Linked DNA regions of Homo sapiens: region 1 is linked to region 2. Evidence: fine-mapped expression QTL. A gene starts in region 2. The other region holds a variant in brackets. All regions are shown on one strand. Distances are from middle to middle. Region 1 has its middle 11 kb from the start of ACSF3. Region 2 holds the start of CBFA2T3 (CBFA2/RUNX1 partner transcriptional co-repressor 3).

Region 1 (9,640 bases), 110 kb after region 2:
GATCGAGCCCCCTCTGGGGTTTCACTGAAATCTCCAGCATTTTCAGAGACACCAGGAGCCCTGGATGAAAGGAAGACTGGCACCCTTGGTGGGAAGGACCCTCCCCCGATTTTGGAACAGAGGAGGCAGAGCTCCTCCTGAAGGCTGGCACCTGCCCCGGGGCTCTCCTGGTTACCCCGCAGCAGGATGAGCCCAGAGGGTGAGCGATGAGGCCAAGGTTGTCAGGAAGGGAGGGGCAGCTTGGTCAACGCTGCCAGGAAGCTCCGACAGTATCTCCAAGGACATGAAGGTCTGAAAAAGAAACAGGAAAATACAGACATCCCCGCTTAAGCAGGGTTTGTTTTTCTTTTTGTTTTTTTGAGACAGAGTCTTGCTCTGTTGTCCAGGCTGGAGTGCAATAGTGCAATCTCGGCCTCCCGGGTTCAAGTGATTTTCCTGCCTCAGCCTCCCGAGTAGCTGGGATCACAGGCATGCACCACCACGCCCGGCTAATTTTTTTTTTACTTTTAGTAGAGACAGGGTTTCTCCACGTTGGCCAGGCGGGTTTCAAACTCCTGACCTCAGGTGATCTGCCTGCCTCAGCCTCCCACAGTGCTGGGATGACAGGCGTGAGCCGGTGTGCCGGGCCCAGGGTTTCCCTTTTTCTGCAGTTTCAGTTATCCATGGTCAACAGAGCTCCAAAAATATTAAATGGAAAATTCTAAAACTAAACAATTCATAAGTTTTAAATTATGCACGGCTTGATGAACTCTGACACCTCCCGCCCTGTCCGCCCGGGAGGGGATCCTCCATTTGTCCAGCGAGTCCACGCTGTGGACGCTCCGCACCGGTGAGTCCTCCAGGAGCTGCCTCTGCTGTCAGATCAAAAACACATCGGATATGTGGGGTTCAGGCATCCCTGGGGGTCTGGGAATGTGACCCCCTTGTATACAAGATGGCTGTATGGTTTTTCTCCTCCTTAGTGTCATTTTTATGTTAAGTGTATTTTTTATGTTATTTATTTTTAAAAAGCCACCCGGTTTTATTTCCAGGGCTTCATGTCACTCCACCAAATGGATTCTGTCCCCCTCAGTGGCTCAGTCCCGTCGTCTGGGTTCCCAGCCCCAGGAACCTAGGGCCTGTGGAAAGCCAGCCTCCCCTGGAGGTGGCTCCTCCTGGACCCGTGGCCGGGGCACCCCGAGGACATTCTGTGGTGAGATGGTTTCAAGGCCTGCCTACTTGCGGGCCCACCCTCACCCCCCATTTTCTCCCCGTTTTCATCTTCGTCCTCACCTCATGTACCCTCTGTTTTTGGTGAGGCAGTGTGGATGGATGAATCCACCTTGCTCCCGAAACACCCCCAAATCTGTCCCGCCCGGGCCCTGGACTCTGGCTCCTAAAATGCCACCACTACACCCAGACATGCCACATGCTCCCCGGCACCCCTCCTCCGCCCTCCTGCAGAGCCAGGCGATGCCCGCACCAGAGATCTGTGCCAGCCGCAGGACATCTGGGAGGAGGTGCATAAACCCAACAGGGCCAAGCACAGAGGGGCGCACGTGTGACTTCCTTGGGCTGGCGGGCCCGTCTGCTGGAATACAGCGCGACTTTGCGGGAACTCCATTAGGCGGGTGCTTCTGTGTTTTCTGCTGTTCGAGGCCAGGCCTTCCCTGGCTCACGTGGGGCCTCACCATGTCCCAGGGTTCTCTCCCTTGGGAGCTGTTGCAGCTCGGACACAGGCCTCCAGCCTCTGGGTTTCTCAGAAACTCTGGGTCCCTCCCACTGGTGGCACCAGCTGGCTCACTCTCTGGGGTCTAAATGGAGGCTTGGAGACCCTGGGAACAATGCAGCCAACAGGACCTCGGCCCACACACCCAGACAATGCTGTGTCTGCCCTGATTTGGCACAAGCCATGGGGAGAGGCCACTGCTCTGATTGTGCAGGTGGTGCCTCAGGCCTGGCGCTGAGTGATGAGAGGACCTTGTGGGGCTCGGGACTGCTGGAGAAAGCAGAGGGAGGAAGGAGGGCCTGAGGAGGAGGAGTGTGGTGGGAAGAGGGAGGATCTGGAAAGGTTTCTAGGCTCCAGGAAAAGCGTCCCCACCATAGGTCCCAGAAGGCGGCAGCCAGGCCTCCCCTCGCAGCTGCTGTGCAGAGCTGGCATCTGTGCCCGCCGCTCCACATGTAGAAGCCAGACCCTGGGAGCCGGGTCTGTGCCAAGCCAGTGCCAGCTGCCGGGACACATGTGTCTGGCACTTGGACAACTCCGCCCAGCGAGGCCTGTGCGTCTCTTTCCTTGTGGGGAGAGCGTGTCATGTCCAGGCCTGGGGTCACCACATGCCCATGCCTGGCATTCTTTCCATCTGGGCTCACCCCCATCGTGCCCATGATCTGGGCCCGCCCCCATCGTGCCCATGTCCAGCGCGTGGCTGCCATTGTGCCTGTGTCCAGCACATGGCCCCATCGTGCCGATGTCCAGCACATGGCCCTCATCGTGCCCATGATCTGGGCCCGCCCCCCTCGTGCCCGTGTCCAGCGCGTGGCCCCCATCGTGCCCGTGTCCAGTGTGTGGCCCCAACAGTCAGCGTTGTTGACGTCACCTTCTGGGAGGGAGGTCGGCCTCGGGGCCAATGGCCCGGAGCTTGTGTGTATGGCTCTGTGTGCGTGTGCAATGCACTCAGCATCTAAGCTACGGTCAGGCCCTCTGGAGGCTCCTGCAAACTTTGAGGGCCTGCCCAGAACTCTCTCCAAGCCCAGGTGGGGCAAACGCTTCCAGGTCAAATGCCAAAATTCCTGTCCCCATGACATGGGCCTTAGGCAGTAAAGGAAGACGCAGGGGTGGAAGAGAGTGCAAAGACGCACACGAACATCCATGACCTGCACACATACGCACCATGCTCACGTACATGCACACGCGTGTCAGGGAGCACGACTGGGGCAAGGCAAGCGTTCTGGGTGGTTTGGGGTGTTTGACTGTTTATGTTTATCTGGGTTTTTCCATCTGTCTTCTTTACAGTGAGTATATTACTTGTAATAATTTAAAGTTTTAAAAATGCAATTGTCCAAAATGAGGACTGTGGAGGAGCAGGTGGGAGGGCAGCCTCCTGCCCACGGAGAACTGGCCTGGATCCAGCCTCCTAGAGACGAGGGAAAATGAAGCCACAAGGAACTTCTCTGGGCTTTGGGGCATCAGCAGCTGTTTTCTGGCCCCATGGGGCACAGACGTGGTCAGAGGGGCACACGGGTAATGCACGGATGTGGTCGGGGGGCACACGGGTGAGGCGTGGACATGGTCAGTGGACGGGGCTTGGCGTGAGCTCCTGGAGTTAGAGGGCTTCAGTTGGACCCCACTTACTTTCACAGCAAGACCCTGGGCACTGGAAGATGCGCTCCCTACCCATGACTTTGAGTGGCCCAATGGGCAGAGCCTGGTCTCCTCCAGAGGGTGCACTCTGCCCTCCTGCCAGCCCCTCGCTGTCTCTGCCCACTGCTGACCCTTCTTTTCTTACTTCTCCCCCCAGGAGGCTCTGGATCGTGGGGCCCTGCTTCTGTCGCAACACATCTGCCACCCCTCGTGGATCCTGTGGCCACCCGCTCAGTATCTCCCGGCCTCGTCCACCTCCGTCTCCCAGAGCCATGGTCCTGGCTCTGCATGGCCCCAGCGGCACCCGACGTCCTCTGCCTCTGCCTCCAGGTCGGCATCTTCATGAGCCATGGCCTTGTCTCCAGCTCTGCCCTGCAACCTGCAGCTGCTCCCTGTGGCCCCAGAGCAACTGTTCTCGTGGGGTCTCAGGGCTCTTTCCCAGTCTTAGAGATCATTCAGTTCATATGTGGGAGCTGGAAAACAGTGGAACTTATGGAGATGGAGACTAGAATGATGGAGATATTCCCAGAGGCTGGGAAGGGCGGTGGGGAGTAGGGGGGTGGTGAGGGGATGGTTAATAGGTACAAACATAATTACATGGAAGGAATAAGATCAGATATT[T/C]GGTAGCACAATAGGGTGACTATTGTTAACAAGAATTTATTGCATATTTTAAAATAACTGAAAAGTGGACTGGAATGCTCCTAACACAAAGAAATGATAAAGGCTCGAGGTGACAGTGGCCCCGATTACCCTGGTGTGATCAACACGTCACGTGTTCCCCATAGACACAGATAATTATGTACCCATAGGCATTAAACATTTTATTTTTTTTAATTTTTATTTGTTTTGAGACAGAGTTTCACGCTTTTTGCACAGGCTGGAGTGCAGTGGCGTGATCTTGGCTCACTACAACCTCCACCTCCCAGGTTCAAGTGACTCTCCTGCCTCAGCCTCCCGAGTAGCTGGTATTACAGGCATCCACCACCACGCCCGGCTAATTTTGTAATTTTAGTAGAAATTACACCTTGTTGGCCAGGCTGGTCTTGAACTCCTGACCTCAGGTGATCTGCCCACCTCAGCCTCCCAACGTGCTGAGATTACAGGCGTGAGCCACCGCGCCCGGCTAGAATTAAAGATTTTAAAAGTCATTCAGGACCCCAAGAGCTTCTGTTTATGTCGGTAATGGTTATTGATACTTACCAAATTCAAAAGAAATTGGAGAACATTTAAAAATATTTATCTAAAAATATTTATCAAGTCAATAGTAACCACAATAAACTCACTGAATGTTAACATAAACAACACGTTTTGTTGGTTTTTTTTTTTTTTTTTTGAGACGGAGTCTCGCTCTATCACCCAGGCTGGAGTGCAGTGGTGCGATCTCGGCTCACTGCAAGCTCCGCCTCCCTGGTTCACGCCATTCTCCTGCCTCAGCCTCCTGAGTAGCTGCGACTACAGGTGTCCGCCACCGCGCCCAGCTAATTTTTTGTATTTTTAGTAGAGACAGGGTTTCACTGTGTTAGCCAGGATGGTCTCGATCTCCTGACCTCTTGATCTGCCCGTCTCAGCCTCCCAAAGTGCTGGGATTACAGATGTGAGCCACCGCACCCGGCCAACGACATCTTTTATGAAGATATCTATAAATTCCAAAACAAAACAACTCTGGAAACTAGGGCATGATTTTATGTGTCCGCTGTCACTGTAACACTTGGCTGCGTGGGCCAGAGGGGAACCTGTGTGCCTCCATATCCAGTCTACTGTGATATGTTGTTTTGATTGAACTATATGAAGAAAATCTGGCCTCACACCGATAATGTATAGTGGAGTACTGTAACAGCCTCTTTCCCCGGGGGAGGGGTACCGCAACAGCCTCTTCCCTCCCGGGGGAGGGGTACCGCAACAGCCTCTTCTCCCCCGGGGGAGGGGTACCGCAACAGCCTCTTCTCCCCCGGGGAGGGGTACCGCAACAGCCTCTTTCCCCAGGGGAGGGGTACCGCAACAGCCTCTTCTCCCCCGGGGGAGGGGTACCGCAACAGCCTCTTCTCCCCCGGGGAGGGGTACCGCAACAGCCTCTTTCCCCAGGGGAGGGGTACCGCAACAGCCTCTTCCCCCGGGGGAGGGGTACCGCAACAGCCTCTTCCCCCCGGGGGAGGGGTACCGCAACAGCCTCTTCCCCCCGGGGGAGGGGTACCGCAACAGCCTCTTCCCCCGGGGGAGGGGTACCGCAACAGCCTCTTTCCCCCGGGGGAGGGGTACCGCAACAGCCTCTTCTCCCCCGGGGGAGGGGTACCGCAACAGCCTCTTCCCCCGGGGGAGGGGTACCGCAACAGCCTCTTCCCCCCGGGGGAGGGGTACCGCAACAGCCTCTTCCCCCCGGGGGAGGGGTACCGCAACAGCCTCTTCCCCCCGGGGGAGGGGTACCGCAACAGCCTCTTCCCCCGGGGGAGGGGTACCGCAACAGCCTCTTCCCCCGGGGGAGGGGTACCGCAACAGCCTCTTTCCCCCGGGGGAGGGGTACCGCAACAGCCTCTTCTCCCCCGGGGGAGGGGTACCGCAACAGCCTCTTCCCCCGGGGGAGGGGTACCGCAACAGCCTCTTTCCCCGGGGGAGGGGTACCGCAACAGCCTCTTCCCCCCGGGGGAGGGGTACCGCAACAGCCTCTTCCCCCCGGGGGAGGGGTACCGCAACAGCCTCTTCCCCCGGGGGAGGGGTACCGCAACAGCCTCTTCCCCCGGGGGAGGGGTACCGCAACAGCCTCTTTCCCCCGGGGGAGGGGTACCGCAACAGCCTCTTCTCCCCCGGGGGAGGGGTACCGCAACAGCCTCTTCCCCCGGGGGAGGGGTACCGCAACAGCCTCTTTCCCCGGGGGAGGGGTACCGCAACAGCCTCTTTCCCCGGGGGAGGGGTACCGCAACAGCCTCTTCCCCCGGGGGAGGGGTATTGTAACAGCCTTTTCTCCCGGGGGAGGGGTATTGTAATTTTGCCTTTTCAGTAACCATGGGAATTCTTTGACACCAAAACTGGAAGAGTGCCACTTTTTTAAAGGTTTGCTGAACCGTGGTGTCTAAAACCAAATCTGAGCTTTCCCTGCTGCACGTTAAAGCTGTTCTCTTTTGCACTCTGAACCGGTCTTTTACCACCACACGTGATTCCGCCACACCCCACATCGGTCATGTGAGAAACGTGGGTTCACTGAGCTGCGTGTGCACACACTGACGGGTTGTGTTGTGTAAAAATTCACATGAATTAATAACGATCACTGATATCAGCAAATTCTGTAAGTATTGGGCAGCTGTTGAGTTCACAGAGGTGAACATGCTTATCTCAGTCTCTTAACTTTTTCTTGAAAGTCAAATCGTACCACAGGAGGACAAATACATTTGGCTGTTTTTCTGGAACTGTCAGGCTCACTCCGTTCTGCCAAACACCCGAGTCTGGGTCGCTGTCCTCCATCTGTCTGTGGTTCTTTCCAGTCAAAATGGCCATGAACAGCAGCTGATTCTGACAGGGGCTTGGGCCTTACCCAGGACAAGCCTCGTGCCTCCGAACGCAGCAGCAGTGGGTGGCGTGTGCCGCCCGTGATGGGATTTGACGTGAACAGCCTTGTTGCTGCTCCATCAAGGGCATTCTTAGGTGGAGCTGGCCCTCCCCCGACTGCGGGCTGAGGACACAGCCCCTGGGGGTGGCCGTTTGGGGCCGCAGCCTCACAGGGTGAAGGCAGCAGCGGTGTTACCCACATGTCTTCTGTACAGTCTGTGCAAATGTCAACACACAGGAAACACGGGCAGCATCTTCATATCATTATGAAAATACTTTTGAACTCATGGAGCCGGGAAAGGGCCCTGGGGCCCCTGGGGCGTGGGCAGCACTCGAGATGCGTTGGCAGAGGACAGAGCTCACAGCCCCTGTCCAGCTCCACGCCTTCCCGATGGAGCAGACGGGGACCCCACGCCATGCCATGCCCTGATGCCATCACATGCCCTGATGCCAGCCTGGCATCAGGAAGCTGGCACAGCTTCCACAGCTGTGATGCAGCGTCCACCTGTCTCAAACTTGCCCCTCCTGTGCCTGGACCGGGCGCTGCCCCTGCCCCTCCCTTGCTGCCTCTAGGGAGCCCCCTCACCATCGCCTCGGCCTCACGGCTCCACGCTCACTCACTCTGAACCGCATTGTAGGGTGCTGGTTTGAACCCCAGCTGGGTGGAACGGTCCTTGAGTGGTGTCCCCTTATGCCTCCTCACTTCCTCACTGACGAAGCAGATTACTTGGCTGGTTGTTCACTGGACTCCCTCCCTCCTCCCACCCCACCTTTAGGCACCTTCACCTGTAACAAAATCCAAACTAAAAGCAACCACAGCAATAAGGAAGATGTCTTGACTCAGAAGTGCGGAGGCGGCTTCAGATAAAGTGAGTGTGGATCACACAGCTGAGGATCACACGGGCTCCATCTGCCTGTCGTCCTCACGGCTACAGGAGGGCTGCAGTGACTCCAGACATCACACACGACACTGTGGTCACCGGGGAAAATGGGCTGTTTCTCCCGAGGCATCTCTTGTTTTGTGGTGAAACAAACCTTCTTGGATTTGTCCTCACCTTCATGGGCAGGGTCTCTGAAAAAGCAAAGCCATCACTGAGCCTCAACCACTCAGCACTCGCCTTCTGGGGCCCACCTCCCCATAGCCCCTTACTCAGGGCCGATGGGAATGGGAACCGGATCAGGGTCCGAAGAGAGGAAGGAGGACTGGTGACTGTTGAACGGGTGCCGTCAGCTCCTGCCGTGGCTCGATTCCCGCCTTCGTGGAGTATGTGGGTCCGACAGCAGCAGCATCTCTGCCAACAGCTCTTCCAATGTGAGTCAGTCTGTGCCATATCTGATCCTGCGAGAATCCGTGAGCTGACGCATCAGGGTGATCAGATTCAAGAGTAAGAAGACTCTTGCTTATCCATGTCTCCGGCAGCCCCTGCACGCCTACCACAGGCCAGGTATCCCGCAAGAATCAGAATGGCCTTGCCACATGGTGCCACAGCCTCGAAGCTCCCTGCTCCAGCCTGCCACAGCTGACACAGAACCCTCCAGAGGCTCCTGAGCTCCCTCCATCTAGGTTCCAGACCCCTTAACTCCAGCACCTCCTGGCCTGATCCATTCACCTGCACAGCTGCCCACCCATCGTACATTTGGGCCCCAGCTCCAACTGAGTATGAATGGCCTTCAGCAAGCTCCGGCCTTTCAGCCTCCACACCTTTGTCCATGCTGTCCCCTCTCTGAGGACACTGGTCCTCTATCGCCCCAGGCCCAAATCCTGCCTCTCTTTCAAAGGCCAATTCACATGTTACTTTTCCCACAAAGCATTCCTGAGCCCACCGGGTTGAACTAAGATCATCTTGAACTCTTCCCATTTTGCAATATAGATATTTTATGACAGCGATGATAACTATTTATTGAGCCCAGCCTGGCCAACATGGTGAAACCTCTGTCTCTACCAAAAATACAAAACTTAGCTGGGTGTGCTGGTGGATGCCTGTAGTCCCACCTACCTGGGAGGTTGAGGCAGGAGAATCGCTTGAACCTGGGAGGTGGAGATTACAGTGAGCCGAGATTGTGCCATTGCACTCCACCTCGGGTGACAGTGGGACTCCATCTCAAAAATAAATATTTACTGAACAAATGTTCCGTAAATTCCAGGCACTGTCCAGGCACATTCCAGGCACTGTCCTAGGAATGTTACCTGGAATATCTTATATAATTTTTTTTAGATAGGGTCTTACTCTGTCACCCAGGCTGGAGTGCAGTGGCACAATCACAGCTCACTGCAACCTCAAACTCCCAGGTTCAGGTGATCCTCCTACCTCGGCCTCCTGAGTAGCTGGGACTACAGGCACGCACCATCATGTCTGGCTACTTTTTTTTGGATTTTTTGTAGAGATGGGGTCTCATTATGTTGCCCAAGCTGGTCTCAAACTCCTGGGCTCAAGTGATCTGCCCACCTCAGCCTCTTAAAGTGCTGGGATCACAGGCATGAGCCATCATGCCCGGCCCTTATTTAATTTTTATAACATCCATTAGCAGCAGGTGCTCTTATCTTCAGGTGAGGAACTGAGGCTCAGAGAGATGAGTTTCCCAGTATCATGCAGCTACTAACTGGCTGAGGCAGTGTATTCGTTCTCTATTGCTGTCTTCAAATTACCGCGAAACCTAGTGGCTTAAACAATGAACATCTATTATGTCACAGTTTCTGTAAATGTGGAATCCAGAAGCAGCCTGGCTGGGTGGCTCTGGCTCGGGGTCTCTCCTGAGGTTGCA
Region 2 (9,557 bases):
TGGGGCTGCCTGTCTGTCTGTCTGTGGCCTCAGACGTCTTGTCATGCACACACTGACCTCCCTGCCTCTGGCTGGAGCCCACAGACACCCTGGCCGAGCTCTGCATGATCCACCAGCTCCAAAGCCCAGCAGACACAGGGCCTGCGGCTGAAGGAGGAGTCGGGCTGAGACCGCCCGGCTGCTCATGTCCACTCCCCCTCCCACCGCGCCCCCTTGATGGGGCACCTCCCATAACCGGGGCTGCCTGCAGCCTCTCCAGTGCCTCCCTGTGTCCCACCGCCTGGAGTGCAGAGTGAGTGGCTGGAGCTCTGGCCTAGGGTGGGCTGGGCCTTAGAAGAAGGAGGCAGAGGAAGATTTGGGAGGGAGGAGACGGCCTTGCAAAGACAGAGGTAGTGGCTGCGGCACGGCGGCCACAGCCCAGGAACACCTGGGACCAGCAGGACCTGGAGAAGGCAGGACCTGGAGGAGCACGGCCATCTGACGCCTTAGTTTCGGACTTCCAGCCTGCGGCACTGTGAGAACAGAAGCCTCTGTTGTTCTGAGCCCCCAGCCAGCTTGCAGCCCATCCTTACTGCAGCCCCAGGAGATAGAAACACCCGGGGAGGGCAATCCAGACCCAGAACATTCCAGACCCAGAACCTTCCAATGCAGAATATTCCGGACCCAGAACATTCCAAACCCAGAACATTCCGGACCCAGAACATTCTGGACCCAGGACGTTCCAGACCCACAACATTCCAGAGGACAGCTGGGCCTGGATGGCCACTTGAGGGGATGGAGGATGGAGAGTGAGTGGTGGCAAAGCCCAGCCCCAAGGGCAAGGTCGGGTAGAGGGAGCCCAGGCTGACCGCAGGCTCTGGACGTGACCCCTTTGCCAGGTGGGCTCCAGCCAGGGCTCAAGCTTCCTGCACGGATGGTGCCTTCACAGCATCTGCCCAGTCCCCATAACATCTGCCCGCCTTGCCCGGTCCCCATAACATCTCCCGCCTTGCCCGGTCCCCATAACACCCGCCCGCCTTTGCCTGCACCCCTCCACTGATAGTGCTCACCACCTCCCCGAGATCCCACGTCGTCCCTCTAAGGTGACACCAGGCAGGCCTGACTCAGTTTCTCCCCCATGGAGGTCCCAGCACATGGCACTGAAACTTCTCTGCCTCAGCCTACACTTGCCAGGTGGATTTCAAAATCTCTGTCCCTGGCACCCTCCTCGGGTGACCTGGTTCCCATCCCTCTCTCCTGAGGCAGTCAGGTCACCTTTCTGACCTCCGCCTCTTCTTCTGCAAAGTGGGCTTGGGGGGACAAGGCGGTGAGAGCCTGCACAGCTCCGAGCACACACAGCGGGCGCCTCGTAAACCCAGCACCGCAAGCACCGTCTTCAGGGGTTCCTTCTGCACCACTGGGCCCAGGGGTCAGTGAGGATCCAGACCCTCCGCGTGAGGGGGCTGGTGAAGGAGCCCAGGGAAGGGGTCCCGGCCCCCAGACGGCGGCGTGTGCTCTGTGGCCATCTTCTGATTGCTTACACCTCAGCCCCCAGGACGCTGTCAGAGGAGACGAGGGGCTGAGGTCCTCCCACCCCCTGCACAGCACACAGACGTCTCTCCTGCCCGCCACCAAACGCGCAGCAACACAGCCCTGCTCAGTACGCCTTTGGTCTAAAGACAGGAAGGTTCTTCTACTTCAGCTTTTAGAAATATTACTGTTCTCCCCAGAGTTTAAAGCCAATCGGCCTGTTTTCAGGCCTCAAAGGTTTTAGGAACTCTTGGGAGGCCTGTGTGCCTGACAGCCACACAGTGGGGCTGAGGTGCCCTCAGGTCTGTCCAGGACCCCCCGCAGTTCCCATGCCCCCCATGGCCCCCGCTCCTCCAGCCAGGCGAGGCTTGATGCCGAGGCTTTCTGGCATCACAAGGCTCCCACATCTGTCCCCTGGGGGCCTTGGGAGGCCCCTGGGGTACAGGATGAGAAGCCCCAAGTGCTGGTATTCACATGTAACTCTGCTGCCTGATGTGGCTAAGGCTGTCCCATGGGTACCCTGGAATAGGGCCGGGTGGTTGCACGGACAGAAGCCCCTAGAAGCCAGGGGCAGGACCCCGCACCCAAGTGAGACCCTGCTCCCTCCTCACATTGCAGCCCCTAAGCAGGGGCTCCCTGGGGGTGGGCACAGTGGCTGGGTACTCTGTGTTAGAGGCCACCCTGGCCCTCTGCTCCTGACCTGCAGCCATGTCAGAGGTCCACCCTGACCCTCTCTGCTCCACATCTTTAGCCATGTCAGAGGTCCACCCTGACCCTCTGCTCCTCACCTGCAGCCATGTCAGAGGCCCGCCCTGACCCTCTGTTTCATGCCTCTAGCCAGCAGCCCCTCGCATGACTCAGGCACGGGGCCACCTCTTGGCCCTAACCTCCTTCCACGGTAGACACCCCCGTCCTTCCACAGTAGACGCCCCCATCCTAACAAAGCGGCGGCTCTCCATGCGCCTCAGAGCCCGTCTCTCTCCGCGCCGGTGAGAACCTGCTCTCACGCGGGGAGCAGGTCGGAAGGGTCTGAACCATGAGGAAACTGAGGCCCAGGGAGGAAGCACCCGGCCCAAGGCCACTCAGCGCCAGGGGATAGACAGGGCCGCTCCAGAGAGGACGGGATGGCAGATGCCAGGGCCAGTGGGCTGGTGCTGCCTTGAAGGTGGCTCTGAGTCACCCATTCGGGAGAAACGAACAGTAGCACTGGCTGTGGTGAGGTCCGGCCTTTGCATTCCGGGCACCCGGGGTTGGGAAGTTCCTGCTCACATCTGGGGCCCTTGTGGGGGATGGCCCTGGGGCCCCACGGGCAGCTGCAGGTGGGAACAGCCTCAGGCAGCCGCCGCCAGGACCTGCTCAGGGAATGTGGTCTCCAGAGATGGGGACACCCCTCGGTCCCGGGTTCTGTGTGTGAGTGTCAGGGGTGCAGTCAGACCTTGGACCTGACGGCCTCAGTGAGAGCCCCGCGAGACGGGAGACTGTGAGCTCCTGAAGGTTCCGACGGCTGCTGGGAGTGTGGCCACGAGGGCCACTGGGAATCGGGGCCACCAGCCTGCAGCTGCAGCCCCCAGCGTCCGGGGATCCTTGTCCTGGGACTTCGCAGGCTCGGGTGGGGGGTATCAGCAATAGCTGGCGTCCTGCTGGACTGGACCCCTCCCCAGAGCCCGAAGCCCCCAGAAGGGCAGGCCCAGGTTCCCCGTAAACCCCCACTGCCCTGGCTGGAATCGTTCCTCGGACAGGGGCCCAGGGTTGGGTCCATTTCCTCCTCACCGGGGTCTTGGGCCAGTGCCCTCCCCTCTGGCCTCAGTTTCCTCATCCAACCTGCTGTGAGGTGTCACACCCGGAGGGCATCCCAGGAGGAGGAGGGCTCTCTTTCTAGGACCCCCCCATCACTTCCCGGCTGCGGCCCTCCCACCCCCAGGAGAACACAGCCCACCCTCCTAGACGGGGCTGAGCAGCCCGGCCTCCAGCATCTGCCTCTGGGTGGGGCTGGGGCACCTGGCTGGCACCTGCCAAACCCTCACCAGCCCACCTGCCCCAGCTGTGCAGGACCTGCCTGTGGGGTGGCCCTGTTGATATCTGAGGTGAGTCAACACGGCCATCCGTGCCGGCACTGTCAACTAAGCTGGGCAGGCCCCGCGAAGCTCTAAGGAGTCACAGCCCCGGCACCGGCTGCCGCTCTCTGCCCCCACCCCACCACCTTCCCCTCGAGCCTCTTACCTGGGCCGCCCTTCCTGGGACCCCGGGGTGCGGAGCAGCCGGCAGATGCCAGGAGGCCGCTCTCCAGCACAGGGTGCGTCTGGGACATGGAGCCACAGGTGGATCCCGAGGCTGAACTGGCTGCCCTGTCCCTCAGTCTTGAAGCCGGCATGAGGAGGGCCACCCTCAGGGGCCAACCTGGAGCCCAGGACAGGCCTCTACCAGGACTGCCTTTCCCGACCTCCTGCAGCCTTGAGGGAAAGAGGAGGGGCTGGGCCAGCTGGGGCGTCCTGGAGTTGGGCCTCTGTCCCTGGAAAGCCGAGGCCCTCCCGGCCACCAACTGGGTGTCCTCTGCCCTGGGGAGGGGGTGGGAGCCCTGGGGCTCATGTGACGCGGGGCGGGCCTGGGGCTGCAGGCTGGGGAAGGTCTCCCTGCAGCCTGCGGGTGAGGCAGCCAGCTGTGTCCCCGTGATAATGCCGGGGCCGGAGGCCTGCAGCTGCGCCCGCCACTTCCCTGACAGGAACCATCTGGGGCCCTGCCCTGCGCGGCCTTCCCTCGGGCCATTCCGGTTTGACCTTCCAACAACTTCCTCCTCCCAGGCAGCTCTGGTGACGTCCCACCCACCCTGAGCCCTACAGCGTGGCCACTGGGCATGTGTTTCCTCGGCCCCAGGGCAGGTGTGCAGGCCTGAGGGCAGCTCCATCCTGGCCCAGAGCCCTTGGCCTGTCCCGCCCACCCATCTTCCCCCCAGGGCTTGGCCCTTCCTTCAGCCTGGGGTATCTGGGGGTGTCCTCCCTCTCCGCTAGCCCTCAGTCAGCCGAGCTTTCCCCAGCACCCCTTTTAGTTTGCCCCCGCTCCAGGGGCCACCCTGCCCGTGTTCCTGTGTCTGCTGACTGTGCCCTTGAGCAAGGCGGGGCCTCTGACCAGCCTCTCCTCAGCCCCTGCTCCGGGGTTCTTGGGCACCTGACCTGTCCTCAAAGTACCTCCCGCCTGCTGGGAAGGAAACCCTCTCTCTCTGCTTGGCCTCGTGCACAGGGCTCCTGGCCCTCTGTGGAGACAGCAGGGCTCCCCCACTCTCCGGGGGTGCCTCAGAAAGACCCTCACCCCACGCCCCAGCGGCCGCCTCCGGTGAGCAGCCTGGAGTTTGCGGGGGTCGGGGGTAGGTGGCTTCTCCAGTCTGGGAAATTCCAGAAGCCACCTCAGAGCACTCTTGGGACTACTTAGACCCTAGGGAGAGTCCTAGGACCCCTTTCTAGCGGCCGTTGGGCTGAGAGAGTGAGGCACATCCCAGATGCTGGGAAAAAAAGCCACTTTCTAAAGCTCCCTGACAACTGTCAGAGGGCAGGAGCTTCCTGGGAGGGGACAGTGACCCTTCGGCCCTGCAGCCCTGGTTCGGTGGCTTTTCTGATGCCATGGCTGGAGGTTTCCCGGCCTCAGACAGGCCAGAGGTGTGGAGCCCGCAGACCCAGGGCCGGCTCACGGGCATCTGTGCTATTTTGATTTGATTTGATTTGAGTTTTAGGTCACGTTTGCACGCAGTTAATAATTCAAGCCGTGCAGGAGTAAAAGCCGACTCCTTCCCCGCAGGGTCTCCAGGTGTCCCGGGTCTCCCTGTCCCAATAGTCGAGTGTCTTTCTCGAGTTGGTGACAACAAGCTGCATGCCAGCGTGTGTGTCCAGCTTACAGTGGGGATGTGTTTGTTCCTGCTGGGGAACTTCCCAGACGCCAGGCCCACCCGGGGCCTCCCCTGCCCTGGGTGGTCGGCCGTTCTGCCCCCAGGACTGAGGCTGGAGGGGACATTCCTGCCAGCCCGGGGCCCATCCCCTGGTGCCATCATTCGGTCCCCACGTCCCCTGCTGTTCCCTGTGCTCTGGCTCAGGGTGGGATTCACAGTGAGGGTCCTGGGGGCCCTGACCCTCCTGGTTTCCTCATTTGTGCAGGGTGCACGATCCTAACGGCGTCAGCTCCTACAGCGTTTCCGGGAGTGGAGACAGCAGAGGCTCTGAGCCGCCACATGGGCCGGGGCCACCGTGAGCATGTGGCTGGGGTTGGTCTGTGTCAGTGCCTATTCCCCAGCTGTGTGCAGTGAGAGTCTCAGAGTCGGGGAACTGAGGGTCTCAGGGGGCACAGCCCCCACTCCGTGAGGCAGCAGGACAGCACCCTGGGTGAGGGTGGTGGCTCCCCCCACCCGGGGTAGGAGACAGGCAGCCCTGCCCCCAGCCCTGAGGCAGATGTTCGAGGCCTGCACCTGCGCCCCCCACAGATGGGACACTTCCACTTTCGCAATGAGGCCCTGAGCTCCCCGCCTGGCCCCGTCTTGCCTGGTGTCTAATCAGGGGGTCTGACGGAGGTGGGGTTGGAAAGAGAAGAGAAGAAAGTTGCCCACAAGTTGGGGGCAGGAGCTGCCCCCCAACTTTGGCGGCCACCTGGGGGTGTGGGCACCACTCCCCACCTCCCCACTACCGGCCTCCTCTCCCCCAGGCCGGGCAGTTGGTGCTTGTGGGGAAGCAGACGTTGGCTGTGGCTTTCAGAGCTGGGCGGCCAGGAGATAAGGGGCTGGGGAGGAAGTGGCTGCAGAGGTGGGGGCAGCAGGAGGGGCCTCGGCTTCTCCCAGGGACCTCTGCTGTCTGCAGCCAGCACCCAGCCTCTCGGGGCAGGAGGGGCCTTTCCTTCCTTCCTAAAAGACCTATTAGGGCCTACTGGGGTTCTTTCGGTGTCCAAGACAGCCCCTGGTCCTGCTCTCTGGGAACTATAGGAGACACGTTCCATCAACATGGCCCAGCATGTGGGGCCCATAGGGCAGTTGGGGAAACTGTCCCTGGGTGGGCAGAGGGGCCCTAAGGCAGGCTTTGGTGAATCTGTAGGATGGCCAGAGAACTGGAGGAGGGTGAGGGGGCAGTGGGGGAGATGACGCCATGTGGGGGTGGGTGAGGAGGCCTTCCTTCAGGCAGGGTGTCTTATGTTTGCCTTCTCTTCTAGCATGTAGGAACCCCCCCACCCCCAACACACACACCCTTCACTGCTGGATGAATAGATGAATGAATAGATTGATGAATGAATGGGTGGGTGGGTGAGTGGATGGGTGGGTAGATGATGGGTGGATGGGTGGGTGGGTGGATGAGTGAATGGGTGGATGGATGGGTGGATAGATGGGTGAGTGGGTGGATAGATGGGTGAGTGAGTGAGTGGGTGGATGGGTGGGTGGATGGATAGATGTGTGGATGGGTGGGTGGATGGATAGATGGGTGAATGGGCGGAAAGATGGGTGAATGGGTGGATGGATGAATGGATAAATGGGTAAATGGGTGGGTGGATGGAGAGATGGGTGAATGGGTGGGTAGGTAGATGGATGGGTGTGTGGGTGAATGAATGGTGGATGGGTGTGTGGGTGGGTGGGTGGATAGATGGGTGAATGTGTGGATGGGTGGATAGACGGGTGAATGGGTGGATGAGTGGATAGATGAGTGAATGGGTGGATGGATGGATGGATGGATAAATGGGTGAATGGGTGGTGGATGGATAGATGGGTGGATGGGTGGGTAGATGGGTGAATGGGTGGATGGGTGGATAGATGGGTGAATAGGTGGAAGGATGGATGGATAAATGGGTGAATGGGTAGGTGGATGGATAGATGGGTGGATGGGTGGATGGATGGAGAGATGGGTGAATGGGTGAGTAGGCGAATGGATAGGTGGGTGGGTGAATGTGTGGATGGATGGGTGGATGGAGAGATGGGTGAATGGGTGGGTAGGTGGATGGATGGGTGTGTGGGTGAATGAATGGTGGATGGGTGTGTGGGTGGGTGGGTGGATAGATGGGTGAATGTGTGGATGGGTGGATAGACGGGTGAATGGGTGGATGAGTGGATAGATGAGTGAATGGGTGGATGGATGGATGGATGGATGGATGGATAAATGGGTGAATGGGTGGTGGATGGAGAGATGGGTGAATGGGTGAGTAGGTGAATGGATCGGTGGGTGGGTGAATGTGTGGATGGATGGGTGGATGAATGGGTGCGTGGATGGGTGGATGGATGAGTGGATCAGTGAATGGGTGGGTAGGGATGGATGGGTGGATAGACAGGTGAATGAGTGGATGGATGGATACATGGGTGGATGGGTGGATAGGTGGATGGATGGGTGGATGGGTGGGTGGATGGGTGAATGGGTGGATGGGTGGATGGATGGGTGGATGGATGGGTGGATAGATGGGTGGATGGGTGAATGGATGGATGGATGGATGGGTGAATAGATGGGTGCATGGGTGAATGGGTGGGTAGGTGGATAGATGGGTGGGTGGGTCAATGTGTGGATGGATGGGTAGAGGGGTGGGTGGATGGGTGGATGGGTGGGTGGGTGGGTGGATGGGTGGATGGGTGGGTGGGTGGATAGGTGGATCAATGAATAAGTGGTAATATGGTTTTATGTAAGTCTCATGCCAGCCCACTTTACAGAGGAGGGAGGAGGCCCACAAGGGTGCCATCCCCAGTCACAAAGCCTGGAGAGAGGAATGTAAGTCGCGAAGCCGCTCCAGAGGATGCTGAACAGTGTCATGTACGGAGGAGCCTTGCCCCGGCTTTCTGGTCCTGAATAAGGTGTGGACAGTTGGGGTGAGCCACAGAGGGAGTGGGGGCCGGGGGTGGAGGCAGGAAAAAACCTGCCCCGGGTGTTCAAGGCAGTGCAGGTGAAGCGGCTCATAGCTGGATGCTCAGCCACTCCCCAGCTCAGGGCACGGCTGAGCAAACCCAGAACCACGGAGAAGGTGCCATGGCCGGAGGGCTGGGGTGATTTGGGGAAACCTGGTACAAAGTGGTGCAGGATTCCAGGGCTCTGAGACTGCAGTTACTGGGCGCTCCTGCCACCCCCAGAAAGAGCAGGTCTACCTGGGGAGTCCGAGCCGAGGCGCAGGCCGGAGACACCCCAATGAGAGCACGGAACTGGAATCGGGGTCTTCACCTTCCCGGTGTGTGGACTCCTTGGGCATCTAGTAAGCAAATAAGTTCACAGAATTATGAAGGAAACCCATTTTACCAAAATACAGCTACCACCCCGTTAGAACATTCTGGTGTAGTGAGCACTGTGCTTTTCATTAAGCCATGATTTAAAGTGGTGAGGCGTGGGAACCGCATTAGGAGACGTGGTGGTGAGTGGAAGGCGAGGGGGGTCTTTTGTGGAGCCCTGGACCCTCCCAAGGCGTGGCTGCTTGGGGCCCACCAAAGTGGCCCTGGGGCAGCTCTATCGGTGTCAACGGCACAGGCGCGGCTGACACCCTGGGGAGGTGCCCACGTTCTTGGTTACAGGAAAGGCTAAATTTTGGTTAGAGACACGACACAATGCCAGATGAAACTCATCCAAGTCCACGGATCCCCTGAATTCCAAGGAAAGAACCGCGGTTCCAGCTTCCCTCGAAGGTGTCCCCCGGTCCCGCTCACCACCTCAGCTTCCAGGAGTCTCCGGTGGGACAGCCGGAACCCCACTGAGGGTCTCGAAGTCACAGGCCCCTGGTTCACACTCAGCATTTCCTGTCTGTGCTGGGTACGCTTGGGCAAATGTCTTGACCCGTTTCCCCAACTGTAAAGTAAGAAGGTAACAGAGTCAGCTGAATGGGGGTGTGGTGAGGATTTAATAAAACCGTCCACGTTTGGACTCTCCTATGGTGCCCGTGAAGGTGGGCAAGCACGGACGGGCAGCTGTGACCCCTGCGAGATCCCTGAGCCGTGAAGGGGCCAGCCCAGGGGGACAGTGGAATCCCCACACCGCCTTCTGGCCATGGCCGCCTCCGGGGCAGGCGCGTTGCTGCTAGAAAGCTCTTCCTAAATTGAGCTCAGGTCGGCATCCCTGCAGATGCGG

What was found. PIP is the estimated chance that this variant, and not a neighbour inherited with it, causes the effect. A credible set is the group of variants that fine-mapping cannot tell apart.
Region 1: its variant is the best candidate, but not a certain one, in a credible set for the expression of CBFA2T3 in whole blood (TOPMed, PIP 0.85).

The regions. Positions count from the first base shown.
Region 1 is chr16:89,078,155-89,087,794 of GRCh38, forward strand. No RefSeq gene overlaps it. Among named protein-coding and RNA genes, the nearest start is that of ACSF3, 11 kb to the right of the region's middle. The variant T/C (reference allele first, on the strand shown) is at 3,962.
Region 2 is chr16:88,972,928-88,982,484 of GRCh38, forward strand. It overlaps CBFA2T3 (CBFA2/RUNX1 partner transcriptional co-repressor 3), which reads right to left and starts at 4,280. Exons shown (of 12, transcript NM_005187.6): 1 at 3,730-4,280. The coding sequence starts at 3,880. LOC124903756 (a long non-coding RNA gene) reads left to right here and starts at 8,136. Exons shown (of 2, transcript XR_007065183.1): 1 at 8,136-8,302; 2 at 9,029-9,359. RefSeq lists enhancers at 54-123, 304-463, 2,405-2,949, 2,602-2,811, 4,652-4,701 and a silencer at 9,245-9,447.